Regions from separate parts of the Homo sapiens genome. Here all the other regions are reported to be linked to region 1. The links are microRNA targets in miRTarBase. Many come from high-throughput screens and were not tested one by one. Region 1 holds a microRNA gene; each other region holds the end of a gene's coding sequence.

Region 1 (3,359 bases):
ATCCTAGGGTCAACTTTTTCTCCAGGGTAGAATTTGAAATTATCTCTGCTAGGAGTTTGATGTAGTAAGACCTGGGACCAGGCTTGCTGACATAATGCCAGGTTTCCAGGATCAGCTCCCTCAAGCTTAGTCTCTGGAACACAATGCTAATTTCAACACTTGTCTCAGGCTAGCTCCAACTTTCCCATTTGTGTCTTGCAGGTAGCGCACTGTTCTTTGATTCTATCTCAGGATTCAGGTCATTTTTTGCATGTTTATTAGGTTGTTTATTTAAGGGGTGCTTGGAGATTTACTTATTTCCCTGCAACCACAGCAGTGCATTGAAATGTAGATTTTATAAAGAAGCTAGTAGTTTTCCTCATAAGTTATTTATGTTGATTCTGAAGATCTTTATGTCTTGGGTGTTTGGTTTTGGTTTTAGCACTGTGTGTGTGTGTGTGTGTGTGTGTGTGTGTATGTGTGTGTGTGTGTCTGTGCGTGTGTGTGTAATTTCATCTTATTTTGCAGCAGATCCAGTGTGCTTCTCAAATATTAGGTTCATGCTATTGATTTTGAAAAAATCATCATTACCATCTCATTCCCTCTTATTCTTTCATTGAATCTATCCCATTTTAATCTATTATCTTATTTATCTCTTAAACTTGCTTTTAGTAACTGTAAAATCCTCAGCTCTTTCTCTCTGTTAATTGCCTGTTGAGAATTATCTGCTTTTTAATCATCGTGTCGGAGTCTATTATTTGCTTTCTCAATATCCATATATTTCGTGTAGTAATGCTATTTTTAGCTGAATATGTGTCCATTTACCTAAATATAACATTTTTCAGCACTTTTTGCAGCTACTTTGGGTCAGTTAAATGGTATATACGTGAAATTGATGTACAACATTTGGATCACAGTTTTAAAAGGAAAAGAGTAGGTCTTCCCATTCTTCTTTCCCACTACAATGGAATGTATGTTTGTGGCCCCCTAAATTCATATGTTGAAACCGTAATCCCTCATCTCAATGTGATAGTGTTTGGAGGTGGTACCTTTCAGAGTCGATGAAGTAATACTGTTAGTGCTCTCATGGATGGGATTAGTGCTCTTATGAGAAGAGGCCATAGAGTAGCTAGCTCTCTTCCCTTCATATGAAAATAAGATCTTGGTAGTCTATAAACCAAGAAGTGAGCCTCAACAGACACATAATCTGCCAGCACCTTTATCTTGAACTTCCTAGCCTCCAGCACTATGAGAAACAACTGTTTGTTGTTTAAGCCACCAGCCTATAGTAGTTTGTGACAGCAGCCTAAACTATTAGGTTGGTGCAAAAGTAATCACTGTTTTTGCCATTACTCTCAGTGGCAAAAACCGTGATTACTTTTGCACCAACCTAGTAACACCTTCACTGTGGGGGTGCAGACATGGCAGATGTGGAGCATCCAAGCTGGACTCTGATTAAAAAGCTAATTGAGGAAGTTACAATAAAGGATCTGGTTTGTTGACAATGTGGAAATGTCTTATCTATCATCGAAGTCCTGAAATGCTTACAATTTATGAAAGAGAAATAGGCCGGGCGTGGTGGCTCACGCCTGTAATCCCAGCACTTTGGGAGGCAGAGGCAGGCGGATCATGAGGTCAGGAGGTCGAGACCATCCTGGCTAACACGGTGAAACCCCGTCTCTAACAAAAGTACAAAAAATTAGCTGGGCGTGGTGTCGGGCACCTGTAGTCCCAGCTACTCCGGAGGCTGAGGCAGGAGAATGGCGTGAACCCGGAAGGCGGAGCTTGCAGTGAGCCAAGATGCATCACTGCACTCCAGCCTGGGCGACGAGCGAGACTCTGTCTCAAAAAAAAAAAAAAAAAAGAAAGAGAAATAAACATCTATCTTATCTGAACTACTGTTTATGTGGAATTTTGTCAAAGCCACCCATATCCTGTTCAGGATTTATATATATTATATATATATAAATCTATATATTAGAAGGTTTTTCTTATTTAATATATTTTTCATTTTATAACTTCTATTTGGCCTCTTTTCAAATATATCTGCTTTTTATGTCACCTTATCTCTTATAGTAATTGATTTCCTCTTTCCTGCTTCATTCAATTTAAAGCTACTTATTTTATAGTCTCTATGTCAGAGTCTGATCTGAGAAGCAGTACCACCAGATTTGTGTATAATAAGGGATTTGTAATAGGGATTTGCCTTATATATTTGTGGAAACTGTTGAAAAGTCTTTGTGAAACTATTGTTTCTGTGTCTAGTGCTGAGCCTAAAGTCATCAGCGCACACAGTCTGAAAGATAAAATGGACGTAAAATGAGGGAAGCGAGACAAACTGGTACCTGCAAGAATAAACCCGAATCTATCAGGACAGAGTTGCAACCCTGCTTCCATGTGTCCAACTTTAAAGTTGGGGTAATCTGCAGGAGGAGCTGCTATGAGCTAAACCATACCTCACTGAAAGTCAGAGTGATTGAAAGTGGGTGTCTGGCAGCTGTGGCATTTCTGAGGGCCCAGCTACTGCCCTACTCCAACAATGTGATCCCACAGATAAATGACACCTGTGTGAGCTACAACAGTGCCATGTGCCCAGTGCTGACTTTCTGAAAATAAAAAGAATATAGATGCTGTTTCATTTCATCCTTCCAACTCTCATACAAAATATCTCTCATGGCCCTCACTAACAAAGATGATATGGTTTGGCTGTGTCCCCACCCAAATCTTATCTTGAATTCCCGAGTGTTACGTGAGGGACCTGGTGGAAAGTAACTGGATCACGGGGGCAGGTCTTTCCCATGGTGTTGGGTGGGTCTCATGAGATCTGATGGTATTACAAGGGGGAGTTTCCCTGCACAAGTGCTCTCTTTCTTTGCCTGCAGCCATCCATGTAAGACATGACTTGCTCCTTCTGCCGTGATTGTGAGGCTTCCCCAGCCACATGGAACTGTAGGTCCATGTTAAACTTCTTTCTTTTGTAAATTGCCTAGTCTCAGGTATGTCTTTATCGTCAGTGTGAAAATGGACTAATACCAAAGAACTATGCTTGGAGGGGAATTCTGGGGAATGCAATTCCAGTTTAGTTCATTTGGCATGATACAAATCCACCATAGTCTCTGTAGTAACCAACATTCAATATTTTCCTAGTAAACATTGGCTCCTGGTATTCACACTCCTATCTAATTCCATCCCACAATTAATAGGACTTACATATATGACAGATAGAATATTGTTGAAGTGAAAGTGTGTGATGTAAGAATTAGGTCATTAAAAAGTTTACAGCCTCCTCTCTGGTCTTCCATTTTTCTCATTTTGGGAGGAGTTAGCTACCGTGTTCTGAGGACACTCAAGTAGCCATGTAGAGAAGATCATATGGAGAA
Region 2 (3,000 bases), not on the chromosome of region 1:
TCTGGAATGCCTGACTAACCAGCTCTGATGATTACACCTGAAACTGCATATCTGAACACAATTCAAAAGTGATCACTATAAAAAAGATATAGACAATCATGATTAACCTTGGTGAGCAGAAATAAAATTTAAGGATACCATCAGTGGCATTCATCTATACCACTGCAATAAAATTTAAATGCACAAATTCAAGAGAATATTTCAAAATACCACTGTTGGGATCCTTAATTTAAAAAAGGGGAAAAATCTACTTAGAGCAGATTTTTAAAAGAACTTTATTCTTTATTAAGATACCATGCTAGGAGTTATGAAGGATTTCTGTTGGAACACATTTTGAAAATAGAGTAGCTTTAGTTTAATAACTTGCACTGCAGAGAAAATTGTTAAAGAAATTCATATCAAAGTCCAAGTATTAGTTCAATGTCCCGTATTTGATTCCATGATCTTCATAGGAAGGTCTTCTGCAATAGAATATGCTCCTATACAGCCGACATATTTAAGGTTGCTTGATTTCCTTACCATTACTCCACTGCAAGCTTCTGGTGTAATCCCACATAGCAAGTCAGTCTTCATTGTAACAGGTCAGGACCGGCCTCGACCCCTTTTCCCTGCTAGCCAGGTAACAAAAGGAATCAGTTAGATAAATCATCTTAAATTAATAATGTGTACATACATAATGATAACATTAAAAAGACAAGCCTTAACATGGTAATTCTAAATATACTGTCTAGCCAAAAAAGTTGCCTTTAATAACTATGAACTTCTTTTTGCTTGTTTTTTACTTGCTTTGAGGTTTTTGGTTGCTTTTTTGCCCCTTTGAGTGAGGAGGCTGGACTGAGGTTTGAAAACCCCATTTTGTTCACAAACTGATTTTATTTAAAAAAAAAAAAAGACTAACAGGAAACCTAAATGAAGTCACACCTTAAAGTTACCCATTAACTTGCAAGTAATTCCCATTTTTGAGACATGAAGTAATCATAAAATATGCTGAAAGCAAACATCTCAGACTTGTTTGACCTTGAGATTTGAAATTTAGTGACATTTTTAAGAAAGTTTGTCTTTCAAGTCATGTATTTTTCACATGTAACTTTATTGTCAGGTATAATACCTTTAAATTCAAGGGTGATGGAGGTTCAGAAGTGGGGAGTGGCTGTTAAACCTTTTCACTGTTGACCTAGAGTCTGTCCCCCAAAACTCTAACATTTTCCCATCATTACTGTTAGAAGTATAGACCATATGGCCAAAACAAGACTAAAATGTGAAACAAAAATCCAAACTATTAGATCTTTAATACAAACCAGTCTGTGAGGTAAATTTTATCCTTCAGATATATATTTGCTTACCCAAAACTAACTGTAAAGCTGTTTTATTTTTAATTAGGTAAGTACAGTGATTATTTAGAGTGCAACTCACAAATTACCCAAACCTATTCCCATTGTTTTCACACTAGAGTTTCTTTGCTGCTTTCTAGTCCCATGGTGTGCAAAACAGTCAAGAGGGCAATATACTCAATCTGAGTTTTAGGTTAGTTAGGATAAACTTTAGGCAACTGAAAGTGGACTTGTCAGTGTGACCTGCAAACCCTTTGAGACTACCTGAATTTGTCCTTTTATACAGTTCATTCATCACAATTAAGAACTCTAAAATACTTACCAACTTAAACTTACTACATGTATTATCTTTTTATTTTTGATGGGAACATGAAGTCTGTTGTAAAATAGCACTTTAAACCAGAAGCAGAAAACTGCAATAAATCAGTGTTGTGTAATGTGCAGACATATTCCACACAAGAATTAACAAGGCACAAAACCCTTTAATTGGCCTTGACATGCTATACAATTTGAACCAAATTTGCAGGAAATTTTGTGAAAAACGAATTGTAAACACAATTTTAGTAAGTATACATTTAGGTGTGAATTTTTTATTGAAATAAACAACAGCATAAAGAATACAAGTAGCCAAAATGGTTTTGAAAACCCAAATTAGGTCAAAGTTCTAAATTAAAAATAGCAGTTGTGTATCAATTTACCTTATTCTAGCAATTTAAGTTGGTAACATACAAAGTTATTCTGATACAAGATATTAAAGACACACTTGGTTTTAATCAACTACCTTTGAAGACACCAAATCTAAACACTACTGGAAACATCGTTGACACTACAGCCAAATGGACTTGAGCCAAATTTTCTCAAGCACAAATGCAAACTCATTAACTATTTCTTTCAGTATCTAAGAATATCTTTATTGAAAAAAATTAAAAATAAAATCAGTTCGCCAGAAGCAGTTAGAAGTGTGGCTTTGTTCGTGTCCAAGCGGATTGTTAAAATATATACATAAAGGGAAATCTTGCCAGATGTCACAAATTATAGCGGCACCCGTTCAGATTTAGGGTGAGTTTCTGATCAACCTATCAGTCTCCAATTTTACAGAGGCCCTACTGTTTCTACTTCCACTGTTGCCCAAAAGTATCCTGATAAAACTCCTGGTTTTCAGATTTGTAACCATAGTTACCAGAATGATCACCACCTTGGAGCGGTTGCTGAGCAATGGGTTGGGAGCCCCAGTTCTGATTATTGGTCTGGCGCCGCTTGGAATCTGGCTGGTTGTACCCATCAGCTTTGCGCTTTCCTCCTACATTTCCACCGCGGCCACCCCTCGCACCACGTACCCCGCGGCCTCTTTGTTGTTGGGCACCTCCTCTCGCACCTCGAACGCCTCTTGCTGATCCAGGACCTCCTCTCTGTGAATAACCGGCTCTACCGCGGGGAGGAGCAGCCCCACGACCTCTGGATGGAGCAGCACCCCTTGCTCCTCTACCACCCCTTCCTCTAGCTCCAACTTGAAAATCTTCATAACCATAGTATGGATCTTCATATCCACCACGATAGTTATGGTAATCATAACCATAATAATCATAATAATCTTCATATCCATAATAATCTGGAGGATATCCATAACCACCTCTACCTCCACGCCCTCGACCTCTTGTTGGAGGGGGCA
Region 3 (3,359 bases), not on the chromosome of region 1:
GATCAGGAGATTGAGAGCATCCTGGCTAGCATGGTGAAACTCCGTCTACACTAAAAATACAAAAAATTAGTGGGGTGTGGTAGTGGGTGCCTGTAGTCTCAGCAACTCAGGAGGCTGAGGCAGGAGAATAGCGTGAACCCGGGAGGTGGAGCTTGCAGTGAGCTGAGATCGCGCCACTGCACTCCAGCCTGGGTGACAGAGTAAGACTCTGTCTCAAAACAAACAAACAAACAAAAAAATTCACCTGGTGCGGTGGTGGTGGTGGTGCTTGCCTGTAGTCCCAGCTACTCAGGAGGCTGAGGCAGGATAATCGCTTGAACTTGGGAGGTGGAGGTGCAGTGAGCCAAGACTGCGCCACTGCACTGTAGCCTTGGTGACAAAGTGAAATTCCATCTCAAAAAACCCTGGATCTCAAATCCAACATTAATACCATCTTTCATTTAAGTAGCATTTTATAGTTTATATACTTCTACCATTTTCTTTAAAAAAACAAAACAAAACAAAAAAAACTATGTAGCACAGGCAGAGTAGGTATCATGCCCCAGTTACAGATGAAACCAAATTGAAGAGCAAGTTAAATGCCTTTCGCAAATAGCAAATGGCAAAGCTACAATACTTATAACTATACCTACAAACTTTCACCATTCCTTTTCCTTAGAGCTCTTATGCTAAAAACTTGGGTCAATATTAGTATGTAATTTTTAAGAAAGATGGTTAATTAAATCGATGAGGCTTTTTTTTGTTGTTGCTGTCATAAAAGTGGAGATAACATGATGTATTAGTCCGCTTTCATGCTGCTGACAAAGACATACCCAAGACTGGGTAATTTATAAAGAAAAAGGTTTAATGGACTCACAGTTCCACGTGGCTGGGGAGGCCTCATAACCATGGCAAAAGGTGAAAGGCATGTCTTACATGGACACAGGCAAGAGAGAAAATGAGAACCAAGAGAAAGGGGTTTCCTCTTATAAAACCATCAGATCTTGTGAGACTTACTTATTCACTACCATGAGAACAGTGGGGGAAACTGCTCCCATGATTCAATTATTTTCCACTGGGTCCCTCCCACAACACATGGGAATTATGGGAGCTACAATTCAAGATGAGATTTGGGTGAGGAAAGAGCTAAACCGTATCACCTGAGTTAGATCTCAAGGGTTCTTTTGAGGAGCAAATAACATATGCAGCATACATAGCTCAATGTCCAGTCCAAATGTTATTTAGGCCTCTGTCCTCACTGACTGTGACAGGGCTCTCTTCTAAGCTTGATAACCTCTACCCTTAGAGCACTGAGTATCATCTGAAATTACAAATTCTCAGATAGTATAGGCAAATTTATTTCTATGGTAGAAGCATTTATTTCAGATATAGAAAAATAACACTATTTCAAAGTCAGAGTAAGTAAACAGAAGTATATTTTTTCCTTGCATACCCATCCTCAAATGTCAACACACAGTTTCCAGCCATTCTTACAAGGAACAAATGCAAAATTAAAGTAATAACTGTCAACAGAAGAGCTGTATTAAAGCTACGTATCAACCTTGAAAATCAGAAAACACAAAGTGATCTAGTGCAGTGATTCTCAACTTTAGTGTGTATCAGAATCACTTGGATTGTGGAAAAAGCACCTTCAGAGAGCTGAAGGAAAATCATCAGGTCAAGCAAGCCCTTGGTCTCAGAATAAATATCAAAGAGACTAAAGATACGTGCTTTGTTCCTCAGGGAAGAGGGAAGGACAAAATATACTACAATATAGAAGATCAGCCATTTACTCTGTGTCACTTCTCTGAGCTTCACATTCAGAAATAACGACAGATACAACTCTCAAGAATTGTTCTACATATTAGGTTAGATAGTGTAATAAGTGCTTCTCCAATCCATAATACATACCTACTATCATTATTTCAACATCATTATTATTTGATACGGAGTACATCTTCCCCACCTACCCCCTACTCCCAAATGGCTGCTATTACTTATTTTAAAAGTCAAACAATCAGTCATTGGGTTCAAGCTCATGGACTACAAGTACCATTTTTATACTGGTATCATTTTTACTAGCTTCAACTATTCACTTATAAGATTTCAGTACATTACTGAAATGACATTTTTGTACCCAAACTAAGACAATGACTGAAAGAAAAGGAACTAAAGCTTTAAAATTGCGTCTTGCTTCTAAAGCATTAATAGTGAGAAAAAGAATTCTTTTCAAAGTGACCCATTTTAGAAAATTTCTGATGTTCTCTGTATTGTTTTCTGAATCTGAGAAGGCTATTTATAGATGGAAACATGGGAATAAAATACCTATAATCTTCATCACTTCCTATATTCAATATACTACACAGTAACATTTCATAGTTAAAGTTTTTGGCCATTTAAGTACCTACCCACATAAATATCTGAGGTTTTAATATTCTAAAACTATAAAACATAGCTATAGAGGTACACAGTTAGGCTAGGACAGGGTTTCTCAACCTCAGGACTAATGATATTTTGGGTTGGAAAATTCTTTACTGAGTGTGGGGGGGTGTTGAGGAGGTATGCATTGCACAGTAGCAACCTTTTCCCCACCCCAGTTTTGACAACCCAACATGTCTCCAGACATCACCAAATTGGTCTTCTGAAGGCCAAAATCTACCCCAGATGAGAACTTCTGGGCTAGAATTTTATATGGACATAATTGTAAACTCTGGGTACACAGACAATACAAGACTCTATGTAATATTATAAGGTAAAGAGTCCAGCACAGTAAGTTTCTGCTATACTGTTTACGCTAGGGCACAGCTTTTATATACTACTTAGGCATACAGTTATCCACATATAACTTTTTCCTACTGAACACTGACATTAGACAAGAAACCACAGCTAATCCAGCAACCATCATTATATCACCTGATATGAGAAAAATCTAGAGTTTTCAAACATTTGCTAAATGGAAGCCTGGAAAAATCACTGCAAGTGTCCTTCTTTCTGAATTCGAAGTCTGTCTTTCTCTACCTGTAAGCGTTCCTTTTCAATCTGCAGCTTCTCAGATTCAAACTTCAAAAACTGCAGCCTATCCTTTTCCAGTTGCAAGCGTTCTCGCTCAAGTTTTAACTTCTCTGTTTCTATGTCCTGTGGTTGAAGCATGGATTTTTCTCCTTGACCAAGTTCATTTTCCAAGGACGGTTTCTCTGAATTGACTATCTGTAACCTCAACTTTTCTCTTTCAATCTGCAGCCGCTCCTTCTCTAGCTGAAGCCGCTCATGTTCCATGTCTAAATGCCGCAGCCTCTCTTTCTCGATTTGTAGGCGTTCCTTTTCTACCTGCAGCCTTTCGGCCTCGATATCCAGTCGTCGTTTTTCCAACTCTAGTTTCT

Evidence for each region. The annotated mature microRNA hsa-miR-548y reads AAAAGUAAUCACUGUUUUUGCC and lies in region 1 at 1,306-1,327, shown strand. An mRNA with a match to its seed (bases 2 to 7 or 8) in the 3' UTR can be bound and repressed. Matches are read on the target gene's strand: a 7mer-m8 pairs with bases 2 to 8, a 7mer-A1 pairs with bases 2 to 7 and ends in A, and an 8mer does both.
Region 2: miRTarBase lists SYNCRIP as a target of hsa-miR-548y. The part of its 3' UTR that is shown has no 7-base or 8-base seed match.
Region 3: miRTarBase lists MSANTD4 as a target of hsa-miR-548y. Seed matches in the 3' UTR shown: 8mer at 1,492-1,499.

The regions. Positions count from the first base shown.
Region 1 is chr14:47,759,029-47,762,387 of GRCh38, reverse strand. MIR548Y (microRNA 548y) reads left to right here and starts at 1,284; the gene lies at 1,284-1,393.
Region 2 is chr6:85,612,313-85,615,312 of GRCh38, forward strand. SYNCRIP (synaptotagmin binding cytoplasmic RNA interacting protein) reads right to left here. Exons shown (of 11, transcript NM_006372.5): 11 at 1,664-3,000. The coding sequence ends at 2,444. Among named protein-coding and RNA genes, the nearest start is that of SNX14, 20 kb to the left of the region's middle.
Region 3 is chr11:106,006,586-106,009,944 of GRCh38, forward strand. It overlaps MSANTD4 (Myb/SANT DNA binding domain containing 4 with coiled-coils), which reads right to left. Exons shown (of 3, transcript NM_032424.3): 3 at 1,314-3,359. The coding sequence ends at 2,950. Among named protein-coding and RNA genes, the nearest start is that of MSANTD4, 14 kb to the right of the region's middle.